7 separate regions of the Homo sapiens genome follow, and regions 2, 3, 4, 5, 6 and 7 are each linked to region 1. Evidence: fine-mapped expression QTL. A gene starts in region 1. Each other region holds a variant in brackets. All regions are shown on one strand. Distances are between the middles of the regions.

The links.
Region 2: its variant is fine-mapped to the expression of OSCAR in spleen (GTEx, PIP 0.97).
Region 3: its variant is fine-mapped to the expression of OSCAR in whole blood (TOPMed, PIP above 0.99).
Region 4: its variant is fine-mapped to the expression of OSCAR in whole blood (TOPMed, PIP above 0.99).
Region 5: its variant is fine-mapped to the expression of OSCAR in whole blood (TOPMed, PIP above 0.99).
Region 6: its variant is fine-mapped to the expression of OSCAR in whole blood (INTERVAL, PIP above 0.99).
Region 7: its variant is fine-mapped to the expression of OSCAR in testis (GTEx, PIP 0.98).

What each region holds. Positions count from the first base shown.
Region 1 is chr19:54,098,899-54,102,963 of GRCh38, forward strand. OSCAR (osteoclast associated Ig-like receptor) reads right to left here and starts at 1,905. Exons shown (of 5, transcript NM_133169.6): 1 at 1,858-1,905; 2 at 850-882. The coding sequence starts at 1,894. It overlaps NDUFA3 (NADH:ubiquinone oxidoreductase subunit A3), which reads left to right and starts at 3,957. Exons shown (of 4, transcript NM_004542.4): 1 at 3,957-3,990. The coding sequence starts at 3,981. RefSeq lists an enhancer at 3,746-4,065.
Region 2 is chr19:54,164,834-54,168,898 of GRCh38, forward strand. It overlaps TMC4 (transmembrane channel like 4), which reads right to left. Exons shown (of 15, transcript NM_144686.4): 4 at 3,615-3,847; 5 at 3,338-3,459; 6 at 586-733. Among named protein-coding and RNA genes, the nearest start is that of TMC4, 6.3 kb to the right of the region's middle. The variant A/G (reference allele first, on the strand shown) is at 2,433.
Region 3 is chr19:54,069,591-54,073,655 of GRCh38, forward strand. It overlaps TARM1 (T cell-interacting, activating receptor on myeloid cells 1), which reads right to left. Exons shown (of 5, transcript NM_001135686.3): 5 at 305-570. The coding sequence ends at 413. Among named protein-coding and RNA genes, the nearest start is that of VSTM1, 7.7 kb to the left of the region's middle. The variant G/A (reference allele first, on the strand shown) is at 1,966.
Region 4 is chr19:54,055,607-54,059,671 of GRCh38, forward strand. VSTM1 (V-set and transmembrane domain containing 1) reads right to left here. Exons shown (of 9, transcript NM_198481.4): 2 at 3,091-3,126; 3 at 2,700-2,984. Among named protein-coding and RNA genes, the nearest start is that of VSTM1, 6.3 kb to the right of the region's middle. The variant G/A (reference allele first, on the strand shown) is at 1,824.
Region 5 is chr19:54,044,973-54,049,037 of GRCh38, forward strand. All of the region lies in intron 4 of VSTM1 (V-set and transmembrane domain containing 1), which reads right to left. Among named protein-coding and RNA genes, the nearest start is that of VSTM1, 17 kb to the right of the region's middle. The variant T/C (reference allele first, on the strand shown) is at 2,261.
Region 6 is chr19:54,125,455-54,129,519 of GRCh38, forward strand. It overlaps PRPF31 (pre-mRNA processing factor 31), which reads left to right. Exons shown (of 14, transcript NM_015629.4): 9 at 1,074-1,163; 10 at 2,619-2,746; 11 at 2,851-2,923; 12 at 3,603-3,731; 13 at 3,818-3,916. Among named protein-coding and RNA genes, the nearest start is that of PRPF31-AS1, 4.8 kb to the left of the region's middle. The variant G/A (reference allele first, on the strand shown) is at 2,552.
Region 7 is chr19:54,050,507-54,054,571 of GRCh38, forward strand. It overlaps VSTM1 (V-set and transmembrane domain containing 1), which reads right to left. Exons shown (of 9, transcript NM_198481.4): 4 at 904-942. Among named protein-coding and RNA genes, the nearest start is that of VSTM1, 11 kb to the right of the region's middle. The variant T/C (reference allele first, on the strand shown) is at 1,708.

The DNA.
Region 1 (4,065 bases):
TCCCTTGAACCCAGGAGGTGGTTGCAGTGAGCCGAGATTGCACCACTGCACTCCGGCCTGGGCGACAGAGAGAAACTGGTCTCAAAATAAATAAATAAATAAATAAAATAAATAGGTAGAGATAGCTATAGCGACACTGAAATATCTCCAAAAGAGTTTTTTTTGTTTGTTTGTTTGTTTTTGAAGTGGAGTCTTGCACTGTCACCCAGGCTGGAGTGCAGTGGCGCGATCTCAGCTTACTGCAACCTCTGCCTCCTGGGTTCAAGCGATTCTCTTGCCTCAGCCTCCTGAGTAGCTGGGATTACAGGTGCGTCCCACCACACCCGGCTAATTTTTTTTTTTTTTTTTTTTTTTTAGTAGAGACGGGGTTTCACCACATTAGCCAGGATGATCTCGATCTGACCTTGTGATCCGCCCGCCTCTGCCTCCCAAAGTGCTGGGATTACAGACGTTGGCCATTGCGCCCAGCCCAAGATCCTATTTCTTAAGCCCTGTACTGTGCCAGGCTCAGGGTTTTGCACATGTGATTTGATGAGATCTCACAGCGGCCCATTTTACAGAGAAGGAAATGGAGTCTTAGCAAGCTGTGACTTGTTCTAGGTCATATGGTCACATATAAATGAATACGATGGTGAAACTGAGGTCCTAGCTTAGGCCTCTGCCTCAGAAGTTCCTGGTCTTCAGTACTCACCTATAATGGCCACTAAGGGGAATGAGAAAAGAAGGAAGGAATGGAGGGAGGGAGGAAAATAAGGATATCTGGGATGGGATTGGGCACCAAAATAAAATCTGAGTAATTGGAAAAGGGGTGTCAGCAACAAAAGGAGAGTGGATGGGGTGGCTACTCACCAGACGGAGTGATGTCTGTGTGACACAGAGGCCCTGTAGGAGGTTGAGGGACTAGTTTCTTTTTCCTTTTTTTTTTTTTGTCTGAGGCAGAGTCTCACTCTGTCGCCCAGGCTGGAGTGTAGTGGTGTGATCTCAGCTCACTGCAACCTCTGCCTCCCAGGTTCAAGTGATTCTCCTGCCTCAGCCTCCGTAGTAGCTGGGACTACAAGTGCCCGCCACCACACCAGGCTAATCTTTGTATTTTTAGTAGAGAGGGGTTTCGCCATGTTGGTCAGGCTGGTCTTGAACTCCTGTCCTCAGGTGATCCACCCGCCTCGGCCTCCCAAAGTGCTGGGCCTCGGCTCCCACAGGCATGAGCCGCTGCGCCCAACAGCGAGTTCTTTTCAAAACCCTTTGTGGCCAGCCCCATCTCATTGGTAACCCAGGAATCTGAGTTCCCAGCTCCTATCTCCTCTGGGAAATGAGAATCTTATCCCTCCCTCCTCCTGTCTCAGTAGGCAGAAATTTGGACATCCATTGCCCACCTACCGAAGAAGTCTGAACGCAGACCCCTCTGGCCTGGGCAACCAAGAGTTCAGGCCCTTGAACTCCACCTTTCCAGGGAACAATGATCGTAGAGTTTCTCCTCTCACGAGTTCAGGAATCTGGGTCCCCATTTCCCTCTTCTCTCAGGAGCTAAGAGCCCTGTTCCCAGCCCCCTTTTCCCAGGGAATCAGGAGTCCTGGCTTCCATCCCCCTCCCATATAAGAATCTGGGAGTCCTCCCTGTCTCCTGACCTCTTCCTGCCTCAAGAACCAGAGATACCTGTCCCCACCTCCTTCCTCTTTCGGGAATCTGTGTTCTCTTGCTTTAGGACCCAGGGGTCTGGGCCCCAGCCCTGTTCTTTATTTGAACCTAGAATCCCAAACCTGCTGCCTGGTCCCCCTGCAGGGTGTCTGGGTCTCCATTGCCTCTCTCTCTGCCCCCAACCCCAGCCAGGAACCCAGGGAGAAGAAAGGGGTGACTCACAGAGGGTCAGCAGCTGGAGGATCAGCACCAGGGCCATGGTGGGCAGATACCCGCTAGAGCTGGAGCCAGGGCTTGGTCGCACCCTCTCCCCTCCCAGGAAATGAGGCAACATCAGAAAACCAGACCCAGATCCTCATTTACGGAAGAGAGTATCGAGGTGGGGGCCTGTGGGTGACTGTGTCATAGCCCTATGGCACTGTGGAAAAATTAGCAGGGGGTTCAGTCATAACCTGTGGTGTTCATTTATTTAACTCTAGAAACAAATACTAGTCAGGAGGTGGAGGCAGGAGGATCGCTTGAGCCCAAGAGTTCAAGAGCAGCCTGGGCAACAGAGCGAGACCCTGTCTAAAAAATAAATAAATAAATTGTGCCACTGCACTCCAGCCTGGGTGATAGAGTGAGACCATGTCTTTAAATATAGATAGACAGATAGAAAGATATCTGTCTGTTTTAAAAATAAGAACCTATTATGTGCCAGACTCTTGCTGTCATTGATTGACAGATAGATAAAAATTTGCACCTATTATGTGCCAGGCCCTTGCTGTGATTGAAAGATAGATAGATGGATGGATGGATAGATAGATAGATAGATAGATAGATAGATAGATAAAAATTAGCACCTGTTAAGTGCCAGGCCCTTGCTGTGATTGATTGATGGATAGATAAAAATTAACACCAATTATGTGCCAGGCCCTTGCTGTGATTAATTGATCGATTGATAGATTGGTTGACAGAGAAAAATTAGCACCTATTATGTGCCAGGCTCTTGGTGTGATACTGTGTTAGATAGATAGATAGATAAAAATTAGCCCCTCTAGGCCGGGCGCGGTTGTTCACGCCTGTAATCCCAGCACTTTGGGAGGCCAAGGCGGGTGGATCACCTGAGGTCGGGAAGTTCGAGACCAGCCTGACCAACATGGAGAAACCCCCGTCTCTCCTAAAAAAGAAAAATTAGCCGGCTGTGGAGGCGCGCGCCTGTAATCCCAGCTATTCAGGAGGCTGAGGCAGGAGAATCGCTTGAACTCGGGAGTCGGAGGTTGCTGTGAGCCGAGATCGCGCCATTGCACTCCAGCCTGGGCGACAGAGCTAGACTCAATCTCAGAAGAAAAAAAAAAAAATTAGAACCTATTACGTGCCAGACCCTCGCTGTGCCATGTTGGCAGGCACAGAGGGAACTCAGACTCCGTTACTGCTCTCAAGCAGCAGCTACCAGTCCGACTGAAAGACCAAGACCAGGTCAGTTTCTTTTTTTTTGAGACGGAGTCTCGCTCTGTCGCCCAGGCTGGAGTGCAGTGGTGTGATCTCGGCTCACTGCAAGCTCCGCCTCCCGGGTTCACGCCATTCTCCTGCCTTAGCCTCCCCAGTAGCTGGGACTACGGGCGCCCACCACCACGCCCGGCTAATTTGTGTTGTATTTTTAAGTAGAGACAGGGTTTCACCATGTTAGCCAGGATGGTCTAGATCTCCTGACCTCGTGATCCGCCCGCCTCGGCCTCCCAAAGTGCTGGGATTACAGGCGTGAGCCACCGCGCCTGGCCCAGACCAGGTCAGTTTCTTAAGTGATCTGAGCTATAATGGCGGTAACAGAGCACTGTGAGAGCCCGCAGAAAGCTCCTAACCCATCTGGGATGAGACCTAGCGCTTCCAGGACGAGCCGATGTTGAGCTGAGACCTCGAAGGACAGGTTAGTCATTCACCTTCTCCCGGGCTCAGTTTCTTCGTCTGTAAAATGGGCTTTCATACATAAACTATAAAATGGGGACTATTTTGTTCCGCCTTAGGTGGGTCGCAGCAGGAGGACTAGTCACTCCGGAGCGACTTCTAGGCTGAGACTAAGGAGATTCCACGCAGGTCCGCAAAGTCAGGCTTGCGCTTGCTCCTGACACCACTTCCTTTACCTCCACGGCTCCATCTTTGTTCTGCGCGAGTGCGCACGCGCAGGCTCCGAAAGCGGGCCGTCGCACAGAGGGACCACAACTCCCAGAGTGCTCCGCGTCCTTGCTTTCGCCTCTACTTGTGCTCCAGGGCGCACGCGCAGCCCTGGGAGCGGGTTCTCGCGCATAGGGACCACAACTCCCAGGGTGCTCCGCGTCCTCGCCGCTGTCGCCGCCGCGGAGACAAAGATGGCTGCGAGTAAGTGCAGGTGCCGGTGGCGCACGGGGCTCGGGTAGTTCTGGGAACCTCTGGGCGGTCCTGGGACTGAGGTGC
Region 2 (4,065 bases), 66 kb after region 1:
TCAATCTCAGCACCCCAGGCCCCGCCCCTGAGGCTCCGCCCAGCATCCCAAGACCCGCCCCTGGTCAGCCCTGCCCATCAGAGGCTCCGCCCCCAGGTGGCCCTGCGCTTTATTCCTGGCCTGAAGTTCCAGTTCAGCTGTATCAAGACGCCCTGCTGGCCGCTCCCATCACTTAACTTTGAACCAAATTGCCTTAGGCCCCGCCCGCTTCTTGTGCTTACTTAAAAAAAAACAAACTTTTTTTTTTTTTTTTTGGTAGAGAGGGAGCCTCCCTATGTTGCCCAGGCTGGTCTCGAACTCCTAGACTGAAGCGATCCACCTGTCTCGGTCTCCCAAAGTGCTGGGGTTACAAGCATTAGCCACCGATCCCAGCCCTGGCGCATCCTTTTCCTACACGCTTGGAGCTCGGGCAGCCCTATCTCGGCCTCCTCTCAACCTTCTCATTCCCCAGGACCTGCCTTTCTTGGAGAAGGAGCTGCTTAGCATCTCTCCGGAGGCCCCATCACCGAGTTAGGCCCTGTGCGTTATCTCAGCCCGGTCCTGTCTGGTCCCTACCCAGTTGCAGACCCCGCTCCCTAATCGCACCTTTAATTCGTACAAGATGATGCGCTGGCGCAGCCGCACGTGGACGTCCCCGCAGAGACCGAAGTCCCAGGCCGAGAACACCCGGTGGCTGTAGCTGGTCAGAGCCTCGGACTCCGCCAGCAGTGTCTGCTTCAGCCCAGACACCGAGCTGAGAGGGGAGACCCGGGAGACGGGAAGTGAAAGGACAGCCAGGAACGGGGGTTATGGGGAGACCCCTCATATTGGGACAAATGGGGAAGATGAACCCTAAGGCCTTGGGTACTAGGCGAGTTCCCACCAGACCAGATGGGGAAAGAGTCAAAGAGGCGGAGACACAGTCATTGAAGGCAAAGTCCAAGGGAGATTCAGAGACAGTTCTGGGGTGCAGGCACCCCAAAGAGAGGCAGAAACCTAGGAGACAGGGACAGAGCCTCGGAGCGAAGGGGGCAGAAACCCAGAGTGAGAGAAACAGAGGCCCTGAGGAAGACAGAGATGTGGAGGAGGGACAGAGGCCCCAGAGGGAGATTCGGAGAAAGGGAGAAAAAGACAGTGAGAAAGGGGAAACTACATCTACAAAAGATGGGGGTCAAAGACCCATAAGAAGTACAGGCACACAGAGAAGGGAGCTGCGGCGGGAAGAGCCGAGAAGAAGACAGAGACCCAGAGAAGATGGCAGGTAAAGACTCAAGAGAGGGGGCAGGCCAGGCGCCATGGCTCACGCCTGTAATCCCAGCACTTTGGGAGGCCGAGGGGGGAGGATCACCTGAGGTCAGGAGTTTGAGACCAGCCTGGCCAATGTGGTGAAACCCCGTCTCTACTAAAAATACAAAAATTAGCCAGGCGTGGTGGTGCATGCCTGTAATCCCAACTACTTGGGAGGCTGAGGTGGGAGGATCACTTGAACCCAGGAGGTGGAGGTCGCCTCCAAAAAAAAAAAAAAAAAAAAAAAGACCCAGAGAAGACGGGCAGGTAAAGAGACTCAAGAGAGGGGGGCAAAGACCCAGGAAGGAGATAGAGAACCCCAGCAGGGGCAGAAACAGAACTGGACAAAGAGACCATGTGCACCTTCACTGCCCTGGCCCCGGCCCCCATCATCTCTCATGTGAACAACCACAGAGGGCCCTCACATGGTCTCCTTGCTTCCACTTGTGCCCGCATATAATCCATTCTCAGTTCTTGAGCCAGTGGGACCTTCTTTTGATGCAACTCAGACCGTATTCCCCTGTTTAAGACCTATTCCAGGGCTTTTCCCTTCTCTTAAAATCGAGGCTCTTTGCCGGGCGTGGTGGCTCACGCCTGTAATCCCAGCACTTTGGGAGACCGAGGCGGGTGCATCACCTGAGGTCAGGAGTTCGAGACCAGCCTGACAAACATGGTGAAACCCCATTTCTACTAAAAATACAAAATTAGCCGGGCATGGTGGCACATGCCTGTAATCCCAGCTACTTGGGAGGTTGAGGCAGGAAAATTGCTTGAACCCGGGCGGCGGAGGTTGCAGTGAGCTGAGATCGCACTACTGCACTCTAGCCTGGGTGACAGAGCGAGACTCCGTCTCAAAAAAAAAAAAAAGTTGACTTTTGGCCAGGCACATTGGCTCATGCCTGTAATTCCAGCACCTTGGGAGGCTGAGGTGAGCAGATCTCTTGAGCCTAGGAGTTTGAGCGCAGCCTGGGCAACATAGCAAGACCCTGTCTCTATAACATTAAAAAAAAATTTTTAGCAAGACATGGTGGTGCACCCCTGTGGTCCCAGCTGCTCCCGAGGCTGAGGTAGGCGGATCAGTTGAGTTCCGGAGGCCCAGGCTTCCGGTGAGCTATGATTGCACCACTGCACGCTAGCCGGGTGACAGAGTGAGACCCTGTCTCAAA[A/G]AACAAAACAGACTGGGTGCGGTGGCTCACACCTGTAATCCCAGCACTTTGGGAGGCCGAGGCAGGTGGATCACCTGAGATCAGGAGTTCGAGACCAGCCTGGCCAACATGGCGATACCCCGTCTCTACTAAAAATACAAAAAATTAGCTGGGCGTGGTGGCCGGAGCCTGTAAACCCAGCTACTTGGGAGGGTGAGGCAGTAGAATCGCTTGAACCCGGGAGGTGGAGGTTGCAGTGAGCCAAGATCGTGCCATTGCACTCCAGCCTGGGCGACAGAGTAAGACTCTGTCTCAAAAACAAACAAACAAAACAAATGAAAAACAAAAACAAATCCCAAAACCTTGATCTTTTTTTTTTTTTTAGATGGAGTTTCTCTCTGTCGCCCAGGCTGGAGTGCAGTGGCGCAAACTCGGCTCACTGCAAGCTCCACCTCCTGGGCCACCGCTCCTGGCCCAAAACCTTGATTTTAACTCACACAGAATAAAGGGTTACACAGCAAGACCGAGGATTCTGGGGCCGGGCGCGGTGGCTCACGCCTGTAATCCCAGCACTGTGGGAGGCCGAGGCGGGTGGATCACGAGGTCAGCAGTTCAAGACCAGCCTGACCAACATGGTGAAACCCCATCTCTACTAAAAATACAAAAAAGTTAGCTGGGCGTGGTGGCGGGCGCCTGTAATCCCAGCAACTTGGGAGGCTGAGGCAGGAGAATCGCTTGAAACCGGAAGGCGGAGGTTGCAGTGAGCCGAGATTGCGCCACTACACTCTAGCCTGGGCAATAAGAGCAAAACTCCGTCTCAAAAAAAAAAAGACTGAGGATTCTTGGGGAGGGGGTTTCTGCCACCACCACTTGCTTCCCCACCCCAACCCGTCCCGTCAGGGGTCAGGGGTGCAGGTGCCACTGACCGATGCAGGATGAGCAGGAGGCAGATGAGGCCAACGGCAAAGGCCCAGCACAGGTAGGTGACCGCCAGGCGTGGGCGGGGCGGGTAGAAGCCATAGAAGAGAGGGGACCATTCCAGGTAACCCTGTGGGGGGAAGGCGGCGCAGGGGCCACTGTGGGAGGAGGCGGGGCTCCTGGAGCTGCACAGTCAGGGTCTGGGGTCAGGGTTTGAGGTTCGTGTCATTGAAGGCACTGGGGTCACAGGTGGGCGGGGAATCCCCCAGGGACCCAGGCACCTACCTCACCCGAGAGCAAGTTGAAGAGCTGGGTGGCAAAGGTGACCAGGCCCTGGGAGTGGGGGTTATAGGAGCCGCAGGGCGAGGAGATGTCGGGGCCGGGAGGGCCTGGGGGAGCGCCTCCCAACCAGGTGGGCAGCAGCGTCATGCAGGCCATGAGCACAGAGGCCAGCACGTTAAGAAGGAGCAGGAAGCGCAGCAGGGAGAAGTAGGACTCCGTGCCGGCGCCAAACTGGCCTGCAGGGGGCAGCAGAGAGAGGCTCAGGTTCCTTCCCGGGAGCAGGACCAGCCCCTCCTACCCCTGGACTGGGGTCCAGCCGCGCCTTCCTTTCTTTCTTTCTTTTCTTTTCTTTCTTTTCTTTTCTTTTCTTTTCTTTTCTTTTCTTTTCTTTTCTTTTCTTTTCTTTTCTTTTCTTTTCTTTTCTTTTCTTTTCTTTTCTTTTCTTTCTTTCCTT
Region 3 (4,065 bases), 29 kb before region 1:
ATTTTTGTGGTTATTTCTTGATCGTATGCTAAACAAGGGGTGGACTGTTCATGAGTTTTCCAGGAAAGGGGAGGGGATTTCCCTGGAACTGAGAGTCCCTCCCTCGTTTAGCTTCTGGAAGTTGCCATGGCATCTGTAAGCTGTCTTGGTGGCGGTGGGAGTGTCTTTTAGCATGCAAATGCATTATAATTAGCAAATAATGTGCAGTGAGGACGACCAGAAGTCACTTTTGTTGCCATCTTGGATTTGGCAGGTTTTGGCTGGCTTCTTTGTTGCATCTTTGTGTCTTTGGGTCTTTGTGACCTGTATGTTGTGACCTGTCTCATCCTGTGACTTAGAAAGCCTCAACCCCCTGGGAATGCAGTCCAGCAGGTTGCAGCCTCAGTTTACCCAGCCCCGGTTCAAGATGGAGTCACTCTGGTTTGAAGGCCTCTGATTCACCTGGAGACACATTCCGGCTGTACCAGGCCTCCACCAGGAAAGCTCCCATGATAACCACAATTACGGCAGCCAGACCCAGTCGTACGAAGTTACCCAGGGAGTAGTTGCTCGATGTGGTACCTGGGGGAACTGAAAGAGAGAAGGGGCTCAGCACTGACCCTCAGAGGGTATCCCTCCTTCTCAAATGGCCCCACCAAATCTGACTATCATCACCCACTTAATGTTTTCGGTTTTTTGGTTTTTTTTTTTGAGACGGAGTTTTACTCTTGTTGACCAGGCTGGAGTGCAGTGGTGTAATCTCAGCTCACCACAACCTCTGCCTCCCAGGTTCAAGCCTCCCTGCCTCAGCCTCCCAAGTAGCTGGGATTACAGGCATGTGCCACCATGCCCGGCTAATTTTATATTTTTAGTAGAGACGGGGTTTCGCCATGTTGGCCAGGCTGGTCTTGAACTCCCGACCTCAGGTGACCCGCCCACCTCAGCCTCCCAAAGTGCTGGGATTACAGGTGTGAGCCACCGCGCCCGGCCACCCACTTAATGTTTTCTAGCCAGTAGTCCACTGTACTTTAAAGTTTTAATTGAACTTTTTTTTTTTCTTGAGATCAAGTTTTGCTCTTGTTGCCCAGACTGGAGTGTAATGGCACAATCTCAGCTCACTACAACCTCTGCCTCCCGGGTTCAAGTGATTCTCCTGTCTCAGCCTCCCAAGCAGCTGAGATTATGAGCATGTGCCACCACACCCGGCTAATTTTGTATTTTTAGTAGAGACGGGGTTTCTCCATGTTGGTCAGGCTGGTCTCGAACTCCTGACCTCAGGTGATCCACCCGCCTTGGCCTCCCAAAGTGTTGGGATTATAGGCATAAACCACCATGCCTGGCCATAATTGAGCTCTTTAAAGTTTTAATCCCTGAAAACAAAAGATGGAATCTTTGTTGTTGTTTTTGAGACGACGTCTCACTCTGTTGCTCAGGCTGGAGTGCAGCGACGCAGTCTCGGTTCACTGCAACCTCCACCTCCTGGGTTCAAGCGATTCTCCTGCCTCAGCCTCCCGAATAGCTAGGATTACAGGCACCTACCACCACACCCGGCTAATTTTTGTATTTTTAATAGAGATGGGTTTTCGCCATGTTGGCCAAACTGGTTTCGAACTCCTGGCCTCAAGTGATTCGCCTGCCTCGGCCTCCCAAGGTGCTGGGATTACAGGCCTGAGCCACCGCGCCCGGCCAAGATATGCAATCCTAATGAGTTGTAATGGGAGTTCCTTTATCTTCCTTCCTTGATATTCACTCCACCTTAGCTCTCTTCCTTCGTTTATTTGCTCTTTATCCCATTTCCACCTTCCCACATTGCCTTTTCTCCTCCCGCATCCTTATGTTAAGGAATAGTCTTGGGGCAGCACATGAGACGGAAGGAGCTCTACAGAGCCCCGAATTCCGTGGCTGGATCAGCATCCTCGCAGCACACACTGCTGTGCAGCAGTGCACCTGAGAAAGTTTGAGTTGAGGCCGGGCACAGTAGCTCAC[G/A]CCTGTAATCCCAGCACTGTGGGAGGCTAAAGTGGGAGGATTGCTTGAGGCCAGGAGTTCGAGAGCAGCCTGGGCAACATGGCGAAACCCCATGTCTACTAAAAATACAAAAAAATTAGCCGGGTGTGGTGGCGGGTGCCTGTAATCCCAGCTACTCAGGAGGCTGAGGCAGGAGAATTACTTGACCTGGGCCTGGGGTTGGGGGGTGGAGGCTGCAGTGAGCTCAGATTGTGCCACTACACTCCAGCTTGGGCGACAGAGTGAGACTCCATCTCAAAGAAAACAAACAAACAAACAAAACCCTAGCCTCCAGATTTTCAGGGAGGCTGATTTGAGTAATAATAAAACTCTGATTGGCCAGGTGCAGTGGCTCATGCCTGTAATCCCAGCACTTTGGGAGGCCCAAGCGGGCAGATCACGAGGTCAGGAGTTCGAGACCAGCCTGGCCAATATGGTAAAACCCCATCTCTACTAAAAATACAAAAATTAGCCAGGCAGGGTGGCACACATATAGTCCCAGCTACTCGGGAGGCTGAGGCAGAAGAATCGTTTGAACCTGGGAGGCAGAGGTTTCATTGAGCCGAGATCGCGCCACTGCACTCCAGCCTGGGCAACAGAGCAAGACTCCGTCTCAAACAAACAAACAAACAAAAAAACTCTGGTCTCCCACTTACCTGGCTCAATGTGTATTAAACTCTTTTTTGCAATTCCTCTGTCTTGATGAATGGGCTTCATCCAGGCACCCGGCAAGAGCTGTAATGTAACTCATTACAGCAGTTACAACAGATGAAAAATAATTTACAGAGCTGAGGAAGCAGAGTGCTAGCACCCAGTAAGGCAGGAAACAAGATACTTTCAGAAGAATTCTAGCAGTCAATAAAAGACATGGGTAGACTTCGCATCCACGGCATAGAAGCAGGAGGCTGTGCAAACACCATGTTCTGAGGATGAGATAATTTTTTTTTTAAATTTGAAACTGGGTCTCACTATGTTGCCCAGGCTGGTCTCAAACTCCTGGGCTCAAGCAATTCTCCAGCCTCAGCCTCCCAAAGTGCTGGGATTACAGGCCTGAGCCACCACACATGACTGAGAAAGAATTATTGAGAGTGAAATCACTAACACCAAGAAAAAACAAAACACGCCATGCACAGTGGTTCACACCTGCAATCCCAGCCCTTTGGGAGGCCGAGGTGAGCGGATCACCTGAGGCCAGGGGTTCAAGACCAGCCTGGTCAACATGGTCAGAACCCCATCTCTACTAAAAATACAAAAATTAGCCAGGCGTGGTGGCGGGCACATGTAATCCCAGCTACTCAAGTGGCTGAGGCAGGAGAATTGCTTAAACTCGGGAGGCAGAGGTTGCAGTGAGCTGAGATCGCACCACTGCACTCCACCCTGGGCAACAGAGCGAGACTCTGTCTCAAAAACAAAATGAAACAAAACAAAACAAAAAACCAAAACGCTAAGAGATGCAAAGACTGGTAGAAGGAATCTGGTGCTGGTAGATTCATAATTTTCAAAAACAGCCTAGAAATTTTCCAAGGATGTAGTATAACAAAAAGGCAAAGGAGGGCCGGGCACGGTGGCTCACACCTGTAATCCCAGCACTTTGGGAGGCCGAGGCAGGCAGATCACCTGAGGTCAGGAGTTCAAGACCAGCCTGGTCAACACGGTGAAACCTTCATCGCTACTAAAAATAGAAAAATTAGCCGGATGGGTGGTGCAGGCCTGTAATCCTAGCTACCTGGGAGGCTGAGGCAGGAGAATCACTTGAACCTGGAAGGTGGAGGTTGCAGTGAGCGAAGATCGCGCCATTGCACTCCATCCTGGCAACAGAGTGAGACTCCATTTCAAAAAAAAAAAAAAAAAAAAAAAAGGCAAAGGAGTGGAAATTGTGAAAGGGAGGTTTTTTTGTTGTTTTGTTGTTTTTGTTTTTGTTTTTTGTTTTTTGTTTTTGAGACAGAGTCTCACTCTATTGCCCAGGCTGGAGTGCAGTGGCAAGATCTTGGCTCACTGCAACCTCCGCCTCCCATGTTCAAGCAATTCTCCTGCCTCAGCCTCCCAAGTAGCTGGGTCTACAGGTGCATGCCATCATACCTG
Region 4 (4,065 bases), 43 kb before region 1:
ACGTTCCAGAGCATGAAATCAGTCTGGTTTTTTCTTACTTGCCTGACTTGTAATGGTTCTGGGATCCCCATTTTCAACAGAGCAATTACAATACATTCGGTTCCATTGTATGGAGTGAGACATCGAAGTGTCCTGAGACCTGGAGTCATCCCAGGGTCTACATTGACTGAGAGCAAAGGTTCTGGGAGTGATCCTGAAGAGGACAAGGCAATGGAGGTAAAGAGAAGGGCCAGGGCTTTTCCATTTTCTACTGCACTTGGGGACTATCTCATCCATCTCTCCGTATTAACCATGTCTTTCATCTTCTGCATTTGATGCTTTAACATCTTGGGGCCTTGCTGCCCTTGGTGGGACCTCCCCTCGCAGGGTTAGTTAATTTCTAGAGCCAGTAAACAACTTGTCCTCAAGGATGTCCCTCAAATGCAAGCCAATAGATCCAGAGCCCATACTCTCAACCACCTTAATTATGGGGCTCTCACACTCAAGGTCAATGTTGTCCTCTCCTAATCACCCCAGGTCCAAGAACTAGACAACCAGGGACAGCCTCTACACCCCAAAGCCAATTCTTTTTTTGTTTTTCTTTTCTTTCTTTCTTTTCTTTTCTTTTCTTTTTTTTTTTTTTTTTTTTTTTTTGAGACAGGTTCTCATTCTATCACCCAGGCTTGAGTGCAGTGGCACGATCTTGGCTCACCGCAGCCTCTGCCTCTGGGGTTCAAGCAATTCTCGTGCCTCAGCCTCCCGAGTAGCTGAAAGCACAGGTGCACACCACCACACCCAGGTAATTATTGTATTTTTGTAGAGATGGAGTTTCGCCATGTTACCCAGGCTGATGTCAAACTCCTGACCTCAGGTGATCCACCCTCCTAGGCCTCCCAAAGTGCTAGGATTACAGGCATGAACCACCACACCTGGCCAACTCTAATCTTGTTCTCCCCACAAAATACAATCAAAGCTCTGGTCCACAGTTCTTCCTCCTCCCTCTGCCCCTCATTGACCCTGGTGCTTCCCCACATACTCCCCCCAGTATAGCCTTCCTCCTCCTCTTGGGAACTGTAACAGACCATCTTTTCCATGGCAATCATCACTTGGTCTGTCAGTCTTACCATACCCCAATTTTCTATTAACTGACCATATTCTACACCACCCTCCCACATCCACATCATTGGGACCCTCTCAGAATCTCTGATGAGAATCTTGCTCCACATTCGGTTCCCATTTCCACATTGAAGGTGTTGCATCTATCCTTCTTCTTCTTTTTTTTTTTTAGACGGAGTCTTGCTCTTTCATCCAGGCTGCAGTGCAGTGGCACAATCTCAGCTCATTACAACCTCTGCCTTCTGGGCTCAAGAGATTCTCTTCCTGCCTCAGCCTCCCTAGTAGCTGGGATTACAGGCGCCTGCCACCACGCCCAGCTAATTTTTGTATTTTAAGTAGAGGTGAGGTTTCACCATGTTGGCCAGGCTGGTCTCGAACTCCCGACCTCAAGTGATCTGCCCACCTCTGCCTCCCAAAGTGCTGGGATTACAGGCATGAGCCACCGCGCCGTGCCTGGCCTGCATCTATCTTTTTGTCTCCTAGATTCCTTCTTCCCCAGCCATGTCCCACGACAGGAAAAGAAATACGTGCATCAGGCAGGCTTTGGTGACTCACGCCTGTAATCCCAGCACTTTGGGAGGCCAAGGCAGGAGGATCACCTGAGCTCAGGAGTTCAAGACCAGCCTGGGCAACATAGATCCTGTCTCAACAAGTAATTTAAAAATTAGCCAGGCATGGTGGTGCTTGCCTGTACTCCCAGCTACTTGGGAGGCTGATGTGGGAAAATC[G/A]CTTGAGCCTGGGAGGTCGAGGCTGCAGTGAATTGTGTTCATGCCACTGCACTCCTGCCTGGGTGACAGAGCGAGATTCTGTCAAAAAAAAAAAAAGCAGCCGAGCGCAGTGGCTCACTCCTGTAATCTCAGCACTTTGGGAGGCTGAGGTGGGCAGATCACTTGAGGTCAGCAGTTCGAGATCAGCCTGGCCAACATGGTAAAACCCTGTCTCTACTAAAATACAAAAATTAGCCAGGTGTGGTGGCGCACCCCTGTAGTTCCAGCTACTCGGGAGGCTGAGGCAGGTGAATTGCATGAACCCAGGAGGCGGGGGTTGCAGTGAGCTGAGATCATGCCACTGTACTCCAGCCTGGGCAACAGAGCAAGACTCCCTCTCAAAAAAAAAAAAAAGGCTGGGTGTGGAGGTTCACGTTTATAATCCCAGCCCTTTGGGAGGCCGAGGCAGATGGATCACTTGAGGTCAGGAGTTTGAGATCAACCTCACCAATATGGTACAACCTCATCTTTATTAAAAATACAAAAATTAGGCCGGGCGCGGTGGCTCATGCCTGTAATCCCAGCACTTTGGGAGGCGGAGGCAGGTGGATCACAAGGTCAGGAGATGGAGACCATCCTGGCTAACATGGCGAAACCCCATCTCTACTAAAAACACAAACAATTAGCTGGGCGTGGTGGCGGGCGCCTGTAGTCCCAGCTACTCGGGAGGCTGAGGAGGGAGAATTGCTTGAACCCAGGAGGCAGAAGTTGCAGTGAGCCGAGATCGTGCCACTGCACTCCAGCCTGGGAGACACAGCAAGACTCTGTCTTAAAAAAAAAAAAGCAAAGCCAAACCAAAGAAATGTGTGCATCAAAGAGTACATCTGCCCTTCTCACCTGTGACCACCAGCTGCAAGTGTTCACTGCTTTCTGACCACTCATGGGAGGCTGTTGTCTTGTAGGCACAAAAGTACCTCCCAGCATCCTTAGGCTTCAGGTCCGTGAAGGGGAATTCAGCTTCGTTTTCTGCCGAGCTCTGTTCCTGCTTGTACCCAGAGTCGTTCACCTTGCGCAGCACAAATGTCACATTCTGGGAATGAGCCTGACACTTCAGGGTCACATTGCTCTCGGCTTCAACCACCGAGCTGGGCCAGGCGTGGAGGGAGGGCTTGGGCGGTTTCTCTGGAAACAATTCAGAGTTAATTTGAGTCTAGAATTCAGACGATTAAAGGAAAAGGTCATGAAGCGTGGGATGCAGGAATAAAAGTTTAAGTAGGAGAAAACTCACCATTCTTTTTCTCATCTTCGTAGCCCAGACACAGCCCTGGAAGAGAAATCTCAATGAGAGAAAAATTATGTGCTTGTCCTTGAGTACAAATCCAGCAGAGAACGTATGACTAGCTCTTTATAGGTCTGAGATATATATATATATATAATGTATATATGTATTATATATAATAAATGTATTAAGTATATGTACACATATTACATATAATACATATATAAATATAATATATATATTAAATATATGTATTACATATATGTATATATTTTTGGCAGATATCTCCCCAGACTTACCTCTTACTTTTGTTCCATTGTTTGTCATTCAGAAGCTACGTGTATGGAGAAAATTCCAGCAACTTCTTCTTTCTTTTTTTTTTTTTTTTTTTGAAATGTAGTCTTGCTCTGTTGCACAGGCTGGAGTGCAATGACATGATCTCAGTTCACTGCAACCTCCGCCTCCCAGGTTCAAGCAATTTTCCTGCCTCAGCCTCCCGAGTAGCTGGGACTACAGGCACCCGCCACCACACCTGGCTAATTTTTGCATTTTTAGTAGAGACAGGGTCTCACCATGTTGGCCAGGCTGGTCTTGAACTCCTGACCTCAGGTGATCCACACGCCTCGGCCTCCCAAAGTGCTGGGATTACAGGCGTGAGCCACTGCCCCCGGCCCAGCAACCTTTTCTGATGTATTGAATTGCTTTCATGAGTAATCCTTTCACCATCTAGAAATTGTTCAACATTCACCTATGCTTTTTTCTGGTATTTTCTGTGATTGCAGTGTTTTGTTTTGTTTTGAGACAGAGTCTCGCTGTGTCACCCAGGCTGGAGTGCAGTGGTGCAGTCTCAGCTCACTGCAACCTCCTCCACCCCCTGGGTTCAAGTGATACTCGTACCTCAGGCTCCAGAGTAGCTGGGACTACAGGTGTGTGCCATCGTGCCCAGCTAATTTTTGTTGTTGTTGTTGTAGAGATGGGGTTTCA
Region 5 (4,065 bases), 54 kb before region 1:
GAAAGGGGCTTCACCAAGACCCCCGCTATCTTTGTTAGTGTGCTTTGAGTCTGAGAATTTTTCCTAGGTGTGCAATGATCTGTGGTCACATTACAGAGCCAAGTCTGAGATGCTTCACACGCCTGGTCCTCTGCACCAACAGAGGGTCTCCCATCCAGACGCTTCCCCTACTTGGTTCGCTATGTTTGCATTGGCATTTCTACATATCTATATATAGAGAATTACCTATCTAATTTATCTATCTCGCTAATCTATCTACCATCTGTCTAGGTATCTATTATCTATCTACCTATCTATCTTTATCTGTCTCTGTACCTACTTACCTATCATCTATCCAATCTATCCGTCCTATCTAATTATGATTTATCTATCTACCTACTTGCCTATCACCTATCCAATCTATCTATCCTATCATATGTAATTAACTATCTGTCTGTCTAATTTTTCTATCTTGTTAATCTATCACTTATCTAGGCATCTATGTATCTATCTTTATCTGTCTATCCACCTGCTTACCTGCTGTCTGTCTAATCTATCCATCCTATCATATCTAATTATCACTTATCTATCTACCGACTTACCTATCATCTAGTTACCAAATCTATCATCTATCTAATGTATCTATCAATCATAACCAGTTATCTATCATCTATCATCTATCATCTGTATGTATCTGTCTATTCACCTACTATTATCTATTTAATCTATTCTATCTAGTTATCTATCTATCTATCCACCTACTTATCTAATTTTTCTATCTTGCAACTCTATCACCTATCTAGGTATCTATGTATCTATCTGTGTATCTGTATATCTATCTATCTATCTAGCTAGCTTTATCTAGCTACCTAGTTACCTATCATCTATCTATCTAATCTATCATCTATCTAATGTATCTATCAATCATATCTAATTATCTGTCTATCTAATCATCTATCTTATCTATTATATCTAGTTATCTATCATCTAGCTAGCTAGCTAATCTATCTGTATCTATCTACCTACTTACCTATCGTCTATTTATCTATCTAATCTATCATATCTAGTTATCTATCTACTTACTTATCTAACCTGTTGTATCTAGTTATCTATCTACCTACTTACCTATCATCTGTCTATCTATCTAATCTGTCCATCGTATCTAGCTACTTATCTACCTATCATCTATGTATCTATCTAATCTATCATATCTAGTTATCTATTTATCTGCCTACTTGCCTATTATCTATCACATCTAATTATCTATCTATCCCCCTCCCTGAAATAAGGTTCTTTCTGAGCTGATCATCAGGGAGCAGCAAAAGGAGTGGGGAGTTTGAAACAAGACATATTTGAGTTCTAGTACTGGGTCTCCTACCTCCTGACTTTGTAAATGTTCCCTTCCCTTTCTGGAATACGTTATTTTTTGGTTAAATATAAGGAGGGGGCAGAGAGCTAATAATATCTAACTTGAAGAGTTAGGTAATGATGAAAAATCCTGGCTTTAAAGCGCTCAGTCTAGAAACTGACTCATTGTGTCGGATAATGGGATTGTAGGTATAATGATGATTTTTTTTCACCCAATATTCCACCTACACCCATCTCTCTCTGTAATAGATTCTGTCAATGTTCCTCAACCCATGTTCCCCAGATCCCTTTCCCATTTTTATGCATTCTAGATCGTGGCTTCTTTCCCTTTCCAAAGTGAACATTTGTATCTCTTCTTTGGGGGACTGCCTGGGAGAACTCCAAATGCCTTGGAATTTACATGCCCGGGACAAACTGCCACTGACGGCTGTGGGGACCCCAGCTCCCTAGCCTCTGGTCTTCGACCTTCTCTGTCTCCACTGCTTTCTGCAGGATGGAGCCAAAGATACCATCTGAGGGACACAGATATCCCACACTTGTTTAATCTATTTTCCTCCCAGCCCTTCTTCCCCACTCCCTAAAATGTAATTTTCAAGCCAGGCGTGGTGGCTCACACCTGTAATCCCAGCACTTTGGGAGGTCGAGGCAGGCAGAGCACCTGAGGTCAGGAGTTCGAGACCAGCCTGACCAACATGGAGAAACCCCGTCTCTACTAAAAATAGAATATTAGCTGGGTGTGGTGGTGCATGCCTGTAATCCCAGCTATTTGGGAGGCTGAGGCAGGAGAATCTCTTGAACCTGGTAGGCGGAGGTTGCAGTGAGCCAAGATCACGCCATTGCACTCCAGCCTGGGCAACAAGAGCGAAACTCTGTCTCAAAACTAAATAAATAATAAATAAAATAAAACGTCACT[T/C]TCACACTAATGCTGTCTAAGAGCCTGCTTCTGGTGGAGCTGAATCAGAGAACCCCTCAAAAGCAACAATTTTTTTTTTTTTGAGACAGTCTCACTCTGTCTCCCAGGCTGGAGTGCAGTGGTACAATCTCGGCTTTGGAACCTCCCCCTCTGGGGTTCAAGCAATTCTCCTGCCTCAGCCTCCCAAGGAGCTGGGATTACAAGCACCCGCCACCTCACCCCGCTAATTTTTTATATTTCTAGTAGAGATGAGGTTTCACCATGTTGGTTAGGCTGGTCTCAAACTCCAGAGCTCAAGTGTTCTGCCCACTTTGGCCTCCCAAAGTGCTGGGATTACATAAGCCACCATGCCTGGCCATAAGCAACAATTCTATCAGTGCATCTCCAAGGACTTATGAAAACAGGGCAGGAACAGCTGCTCCTGGACTCTCAGTTTCCCCAGATGGAAGCAGAGAAACAGCAGCCTTGCCTTGTCCTTTCTGTTCTCCCCTTTTCCAGCCTACGGTATCTTTCACACAGCAATTCACTAGAAATGAGAAGTACATTATTGCAAAATTCTCATCTTCATATGACCCCATAATCAGCTGAACTGGGTTCACCCTGAGATGTCCACAGATCCTGGCCAAATGTTGCATCAGTATTTGCAAATTGCCAGAATAAATCATAACTTGCTACGCTACTAAAGTCAGCGTGAGCAACAAGATACAGCCTGACACGGGGCATAAATGGAGGCACAGGCACCAGAAAGAAAGTCAAGTCTTGTGTGATAAAATTCATCTTCATTCTCTACATTGCGATTGAACATAGAGTCGTTTTCTAGTGTGTTTTAGGCATATAAATACAGGCTGGGGACATCATACCTGTGCTTACAGATATTTTACTTTTATTTTATTTATTTACTGAAACAGGGTCTCGCTCTGTCACCCAGGCTGGAGTGCTGTGGCGCAATCACAGTTCACTGAAGCCTCAACCTCCTGGGCGCAAACGATCTTTCTGCCTGAGCCTCCCAAGTAGCTGGGACTACAGGTGCACACCACCACGCCTGGCTAATTTTTGTATTTTTTGTAGAGATGGGATCTTACCAAGTTGTCCAGGCTGGTCTTGAACCCCTGGGCTCAAGTGATCCTCCTGCCTCATCTTCCCAAAGTCCTGGTATTACAGACGTGAGCCACTGCGCCCGGCAAAGATATTTTATTCTGTTTAGAATTGTGATGATACAAATTTGAACTCAAAAAGTACATTTTAAGAAATTATATAATACCCACTGGGATGGCTATAATTTAAAAAAAGAAAAGTAAGTGTTGACAAGGATGTGGAGATATTGGAACCCACATATATTACTGGAAGGAATATAACATGATACAGCCACAATGGAAAATGATTTGGCAGTTCCTCAAAAAGTTGAACATAATAGTCACCATATGTCCTAGCAAATCCACTTCTAGGTACATACTCAAGATAATTTACAGCGCGGAGACAAACAGATACTCCTACCACAGTGTTCCAGCACCATTACTCGCTTTAGCCAAGAGGTGCAGACAACACAAATGTCCATCAAAAGAAGAACGGGGCCAGGCACAGTAGCTCAAGTCTGTAATCCCAGCACTTTGGGAAGCTGAGGCGTGTGGATCACCTGAGGTCAGGAGTTCGAGACCAGCCTAGCCAACATGGTGAAACCCCCTCTCTACTAAAAATACACAAATTAGCTAGGCATGGTGACGGGCGCCTGTAGGTCCAGCTACTCAGGAGGTTAAGGCAAAAGAATCACTTAAACCTGGGAGGCGGAGGTTGCAGTGAGCTGAGAT
Region 6 (4,065 bases), 27 kb after region 1:
CACTGCCCTCCAGCCTGGGTGACAGAGTGAGACTCTGTCTCAAAAAAAAAAAAAAACAAGCAAGACAGGTTCTGGGACAGACAGGCCTGGGTCCAGACCCTGCTCTGTCCAACTGTGGCGAGTTACCTCAGGCTCACGGCCCTGTGCCCTGCCTGGCCTCCCCCAGGGATGGGGAGAACAATAGCACTGATGGCCAAGGCTGGGCAGGCACTTCCTGGCCCCACCCCCCAGCCCTGTGTGGGGTTTTTTTTGTGGTCTTTTCTGCGACCCTTTAGGTCAGGCACTGCTACTGGAACACACCCAGGGAGGCTGGCAGGTCACCCCATCCTGGGAGGAGAGAGAGTGGGCGATAGAACCCAGGACGGGTGGGCCTGGGGCTCGGGGCTCCAGCTGCCTCACTGCACCCCTGCCATCGCCACCGCCTCACAGCCCTGGGCATATGGGTTAAACCTGCCCCAGGGAGCCTGATGTCTTGTCACCCAGGCCTCTGCCTCTTCATTTGGCCATCTCACATCGGTCCAGGCACAGGCCGTAGACACCACAGGCCTGTAAGGGAGGCCAGGGCTGGCCATCGCTTCACTGTGGCTGACAGCTGGGCTCTGTTTGCAGTTTGGATTGGAACCCTGGCTCCATCACCTGCTGGCTGTCTCCCTGGCCACATGACTTGAAGCCTTGGTTTCCACATCTGAAAAGGGGGTGCAATGATCACACCAGCCCGATATTTGAATATTTGATGAGATGATCCGAGGGGCGTGCTTAGCATGGGGCTGGCATCCAGGCCGAGTGCACTCCCCCCGGCGTCTCCACAGTCACCACCGTCCTCGTTGTCAGCGTGCCTTACTGTCATCCTTACCTGATGGCCACTTATCAGCTGGGACATGGCTCTGTGCCCTGCCCTCATCCCCTCTTCCTGTGAAGTAGGAGCTGAGAGCACACACCTCTAGAGCCCAAGGGTGGAAAGCCCCCTTCCAGGACCCCAGGTAGAGCCAGAGGAGGAGCGCGCGCGGTTGCTTTGCTGTTACCTCTGTCTGTCTGTCTCACACAGATTCCACCCCCGTTTTCCGTTGCTCCAGGATCTGCGGCGGAAAGCGGCCCGGCTGGTGGCCGCCAAGTGCACACTGGCAGCCCGTGTGGACAGTTTCCACGAGAGCACAGAAGGGAAGGTGAGGAGGGAAAGGTGAGGGGCGGCCGGGCGTCTTTTCCTCTGGGCCTGGGGTGTCTCTGCAGGGAGACCCTCAGCAGGGAGCCCACCCCAGCGAGCACTGTCCTACCAAGGCGGAGGCAGTGCTTCTGCCCACCCTCCCTGGGGTCAGGCACCCCCTTCCCCAGTGGGGTTTCCTAGGTCTGCTGTTGGAAGGTAGCATGAACCTACTGGCTTAAAACAGTGCAGGTGTGGCCGGGTGCAGTAGCTCACGCCTGTAATCCCAGCACTTTGGGAGGCCAGGGTGGGCGGGTCACAAGGTCAGGAGTTTGAGACCAGCCTGGCCAACATGGTGAAACCCCATCTCTACCAAAATTAGCCGGGTGTGGTGGCACGCACCTGTAATCCCAGTTACTCAGGAGGCTGAGGCAGGAGAATTGCTTGAACCTGGGAGACGGAGGTTGCAGTGAACTGAGATTGCATCATTGCACTCCAGCTTGGGTGACATAGCGAGACTCCATCTAAAAACAAAAACAAAAAACAGTACAGGTTTATTATCTGTGGTCCTGTAGGTCAGAAGTCCAAAATGAGTTTCACTGGGCTGAAGTCAGGGTGTCATCCTGGAGCGTTCCTTCTGGGGGATTCAAGGGATAATCCATTCCCTGGTCTTTTCCAGCTTCTAGGGGTCACTGGCACCCCTTAGCTCGTGGCCCTCCCTCTGTCTGCGGAGCCAGCCACATAGCACCCTCAGACCTCTCTCTGACTCTGCTTCTGTCTTCATATCTCCGCCTCTGTTTTTGTTCCCCTCTTCTATTTTAAGGGCCCCTGTGGCTATACTGAGCCTACTCAGATGGTCCAGGATAGTCTTCCCAGCTCACAATCCTTAAAATCCTTCTTAACCTCTTCACGTCCCTTTTGCCCTGTGATTCTGGGAATTAGAACATGGGCCTCTTTGGGCATGTGTGTGTTGGTGGGGGCGTAATTTGCCTTCCACACCAGGATCTGTCCCCGCTGCAACAGGGGATGTTATTCAAGTAATTATTCAGTTACCTTCTGTCTTCCTTGGTAGATGTACTCGGGAGAGGAGACGTTTTCTGTCTTGTGAACTGTCGTTTGCCAAGCACCCGGCCTGGCACAGCGTTCAGGTGTTCCGTGTCCCCTTCTCCTTTCCCTCTCCCCATCTCACCCCTGGTCTGGGTGTGGGGGTGCAGCTGTGAGTAGCACAGACAGGACCCCTGCCCCGTGGCGTGGACATTCTTGTTGGGGCCGGGTCAAAGAGACAGTCAACAGGTGAACTCTGTCCTGCGTCTAGCGGTGCTAAGTCAACACCAAGAAGAAAAAGAAAGGGGGTGGCGGTGAGGCAGCATTAGGTGCTGATTTAACTAAGGCACGTGGATACTCGGGGGGCCC[G/A]CTCAGAGGAGGCCTGGGTGGGCAGCCCACGCGAGCAGCTGCAGGACCTCCCCCTCGCCCTCCCCAGGTGGGCTACGAACTGAAGGATGAGATCGAGCGCAAATTCGACAAGTGGCAGGAGCCGCCGCCTGTGAAGCAGGTGAAGCCGCTGCCTGCGCCCCTGGATGGACAGCGGAAGAAGCGAGGCGGCCGCAGGTGAGGGGCCCTGGGGGTCCGGTAGGCATGGGGGTCATGGAGGGGAGAAGCCGGCGTCCTCCTCCCAGCCGACTCCCTGGCGCCGCCCACCCACCCGTCCCCAGGTACCGCAAGATGAAGGAGCGGCTGGGGCTGACGGAGATCCGGAAGCAGGCCAACCGTATGAGCTTCGGAGAGGTCAGACTCCCAGAGCGCCCTCCTCAACCCCACAGCCAGCCAGCCGCCACCGCCCTCTGCCTCCTGCCACCGCCCCTCCTCTCGTCCTGTGGCCCTGGCTCATGTCTAGGGCGCTGCCCCAGCCTCCCCCCCCCCGGCCTCTATTCTCGTTTCCATCCGTTCAGCCCCAAAGCGACCCTCGCGACCCTTGGAGCCTGTGTCTCCGCTGCTTAGAGCCCCCGCGGCTTCCCATCGCCCCGGGCTCCTTGGCCGGTTCCTCCCTGCCCAGAGGCTCCTTAGTGCCCTGCTGCACGGCCGCCCCGTCCCTGGGCCCCGCCAGTCTCCTCTGTTATCCCAGCGTCATCCCCTTGGTCCTGCAGGACCGAACTCAGAGGCCACCTCATCCTATTAAACCTGTTCTGGTTCCTGACATCCCCCGACCCACACGAGTAAGGAAGGAATGGCCTCCCAACTCTGAGCTCACAGAGCAGTGCTGGGACCGGGCCCCTCTCAGGCTCCCCAGCATCCCCCGCGTGTGTGGGCCCCCAGGCCTCAGCCGGGCCGAGTGGGTACCGGAGCAGGTGCCCGTGGGACCGGCCGGCTGGTGACCGCTGGGCTTCGGGCTGGTGGAGGGGGTGCCTCGGTGGCTGGAGGGCAGGGCCTGGTCGCTGAACTGCAGGGCGCCTCCTCTCCCCCCTAGATCGAGGAGGACGCCTACCAGGAGGACCTGGGATTCAGCCTGGGCCACCTGGGCAAGTCGGGCAGTGGGCGTGTGCGGCAGACACAGGTAAACGAGGCCACCAAGGCCAGGATCTCCAAGACGCTGCAGGTATGGGCCAGACCCAGGTGGGGCTGGGGACCGAGGGACACAAGGTGGGGGGAGCCCAGATCGCAGCCTCCCTGTCCTCCCCACAGCGGACCCTGCAGAAGCAGAGCGTCGTATATGGCGGGAAGTCCACCATCCGCGACCGCTCCTCGGGCACGGCCTCCAGCGTGGCCTTCACCCCACTCCAGGTACCTCCCCTGGGCCGGCTCTGTCCCCAGCCCTGAGACCTTGGCAAGGCCCCTTGCCCTCTGCCCCTGTGAAGAAGGCCAGGATGAGTCTCCTCATGGGGCTGTTGTGGAGGGTGTGGTGACGAGGTATGCAGAGGACGTAGACAGCT
Region 7 (4,065 bases), 48 kb before region 1:
CCATTATTCCCCAAATCCCACCCTAGTTTTTCATCATGTCATATGGCAAACAACGCACTCTGTGCTGTTTTACACACCAGCTTCTTCAGAACCCGGAAGCACTTTAGAGGTTATCTCCCCTCATCCTCCACCCCCCAAAACACAGCAGTTTCCCCAATAACATTGAGAAAATGGGCTTTAAAGTTCTTCTAGGCCGGGTGCGGTGGCTCATGCCTGTAATCCCAACACTTTGAGAGGCCGAGGCGGGGGAATTGCTTGAGGTCAGGAGTTTGATACCAGCCTGGCCAACATGGTGAAACCCCATCTCTACTAAAAACAAAAAACAAAAAACAAAACTGAGCTGGATATGGTGGTGGGTGCCTGTAATCCCAGCTATTCGGGAGGCCGAGGCAGGAGAATTGCTTGAACCCAGAACCCAGGAAGTGGAGGTTGCAGTGAGCTGAGATTGTGCCACTTCACGCCACCCTGGGGGACAGAACAAGACTCTTTCTCAAAAAAATAAATAGGCCGTGTGCGGTGGCTCACGCCTGTAATCCCAGCACTTTGGGAGGCTGAGGCGGGCAGATCACAAGGTCAGGAGTTCGAGACCAGCCTGGCCAACATGGTGAAACCCCGTCTCTACTAAAAATACAAAAATTAGCTGGGTGTGGTGGTGCGTGCCTGTAGTCCCAGCTATTCGGGAGGCTGAGGCAGGAAAATTGCTTGAATCCGGGAGGCGAAGGTTGCAGTGAGCTGAGATTGCGCCACTGTACTCCAGCCTTGGTGACAAAGCGAGACTCTATCTCAAAAAACAAACAAACAAACAAACAAACAAATAAATAAAGTTCTCCTTGTGCACTTTAAGCAAAGGTGATCATGAAGCAGATCTCATTGGGAAAAACATCTCCTTTCTAATTATCTTACCTGTTTTCATTGAGGGAGCTTCAAGTTCATCGTGTTTATCTAGAAAATAGGAGGGAAGAAAAGGAATTACACTAATCATACAGGAACCTTGGGGACAGGAGTCCTCACGTCCTACTTATAGACATCCTGTTCTTCTTTGGGAAGCAGAAAAGAGAATGGCTTCTCCATTCCCTAGATGCTCCCTGGGTCCTCAGAGCATGGACAGAGCCTCAGATTACTCTTCTTAATAGTCCTGGAGTTTGATAGTATTTTTAATAACAAAAATATTTATGAATGACCCTGCTAACGCCCCCTCCAGTTTGATTCCTTGCCAGTCTTCTCTATCTTGACAAAGAACACCATTCACCCAAATTCTTTCTTTCTTTTATTTTTTTTGAGTCTTGCACTGTTACCCAAGCTGGAGTGCAGTGGCATGATCTCAGCTCACTGCAACCTCCGCCTCCCGGGTTCAAGAGATTCTCCTGCCTCAGCCTTCCAAGTAGCTGGGACTACAGGCGCCCGCCACCACACCCTGCTAATTTTTGTATTTTTAGTAGAGACAGGGTTTCACCATGTTGGCCAGGCTGGTCTCAAACTCCTGGCCTCAAGTGATCAACCTGCCTTGGCCACTCAGAATACTGGGATTCCAGGCATGAGCCACTGCACCTGGCCTATATTTCTATCTCCACAGTGGCACCATTTAGTCTAAGTTAAAATATCACCTACTTGGCCGGGCGCAGTGGCTCACGCCTGTAATCCCAGCACTTTGGGAGGCCGAGGCGGGCAGATCACAAGGTCAGGAGATCGAGACCATCCTGGCTAACA[T/C]GGTGAAACCCCGTCTCTACTAAAAATACAAAAAGTTAGCCGAGCGTGGTGGCGGGCCCCTGTAGTCCCAGCTACTCGGGAGGCTGAGGCAGGAGAATGGCGTGAACCCGGGAGGCGGAGCTTGCAGTGAGCCGAGATCGCGCCACTGCACTCCAGCCTGAGGGACAGAGCCAGACTCCGTCTCAAAAAAAAAATAAAAATAAAAATAAAAATGAAATGAAATATCACCTACTCACCAGTCCCTGGCAACCACCAGTTGCTTCTGTGAGTTTGGCTTTTTTAGACTACACATATGAGTGAGATCCTGCAGAATTTGTCTTTCTGAGTCTGGCTTATTTTGTTTAGCATGATATATGCGGAGATGTTGATGAAAGGGTATAAGTTTCCAGTTCTAAGATGAAGAAGTTCAGGTGCTCAGCATGGTGGCAATGGATGTGCTAATTAATTTGACTGTGATAATCATTACACAATGTACAGGTGGATCAAATCATCAGATTGTATACCTTGAATATATACAATCTTCATTTGTCAATTTGATATTTTTAAATTTAAAAAGTCGTATTGCCTGAAACGCACCAACTCTTACTACATCTAGTCCCTTATTTTCCAAAAGCAGCCAGAGGCCGGGCATGATGGCCTGTGCCTGTAATCTCAGATGCTTGGGAGGCTGAGGTGGGAGGATTACCTGGGCCTGGGAGGTCAAGGCTGCAGTGAGCTGTGATTGCACCACTGCACTCCAGCCTGGGCAACCGAGTGGGACCCTGTCTCAAAAAAAAAAAAAAAAAAAAAAGCAGCCAGTGACCCTTCCAGCATATAAATAAAATCATGCCATCCTCCAGCTCAACTTCATCAGTGGGTTCCTGTTCTTTCAAAGCAGACTCTAGGACCAGTTCAAACACCCACAAGATCCTAGATGCTCTAGGCCCTGCCTTATGTCCTCCTTTCTGTGTCTCAATCATTCCAGGAACACTCACACTTCTGAGACTTTGCTTTTGCTGCTCTCTCTCCCTGGAGGGCTGTTCTCCAGATATCGGTGTGGTTGGGTCATTCTCATCCTTCATGCTTGTGGCAGATAGACCCTAAGGGGGCACTCAGGAGACTCAGGAGCCCTGCTTCCTGGTGTTCATGCCTTTGTCTAATCCCCTCACCTTGAGTGTGGAGATCTGTGACTTTCTTCTCACCAATAGCTATGGCAAAGGTGATGGGATGTTATGCTCTTGATTATGTTACATTACATAAAACTCTGTTTGCTAGGGCATTTGCTCTCTCTTTCTTCTCTCTCTCTCAATCTCTCTTCTTGCAAGTGCTGCAGAATCATTCTAGCATGAATCCTACAGCTATAAAGAACCAGATATTGCTATCAACCACAGGAGTGGAGAAATGGACCCTTCCCCAGTCAAGCCTCCAGATGAGCCAGATGAGAACACAGCCCTTGTTGACACCTTGATTGCATCCTTATGAGACCCAAAGCAGAGGACTCAGCTAAGCTGTGCCTGGACTCCTGACCCACATCAACTGTGAGATAATAAATAGGTGTTTCAGGCTGCTAAATTAGTGGTAATTTGTTATGCAGCTGTAGATCACTAATACAATGCCTCTCACAGTTATTCTCCATCTATAATGTGTTTTTTAATTACTCTGATAGCTTGCTCTTATTTCTTTCTTTCTTCCAAAGAAGAATGTGAGCTCCTGTTGGCCAGAGACCTGGTCTGTCTCAGTTCCTACAATATGCTCAGGATCTACCAAAGTATCTGAATTTGTAGGGTGAATGGGCAGCTATTTTTGTGCCAGGTATTTTGCATTAATTTTTTTTTGTAATGGAAGCATTTATATGCCCATTTTGTAATAAGTAAAAAGTAGTATAATAAAAAAGTAAAAAGTAGTATAATAAAGTGATTTGCAAAGCAGCAAACAGATTGTATATGGAAGGCTGACCTGGAAAATCAACCACTGGAAATTGATACTATAGCCTGTCTTGTGATGTAATGGTACAGCTGCGATAGAGGTGAAGAAATCAGGAAACAGTAGATGATATGCCAGAGAACATAATTGGGAAATGGCAAATAATCGCGAGGCTTTTAGGGCTAAAGTGTGGGTGCAGAAATTCTTAAGACTACAAGAACGAGTTATGGGGAATACAATTTGAAATCAATATCAAAGTGATGAGCACCTTGTTGGAGTATCATTGATCAAGAGCCTCAGAAAGAGGGTAAATCAGAGGTGAAACATTAAGTATTCAGTTACTCATCATGCCCCAAGCCCAGGCTAAGTCATTGGTGTGGACCCACGGCTACTTCTACACTACACTGATGACTGTAAAGTCTCTCCAGGGATTTCCCATGATATGGCAGGACTGAC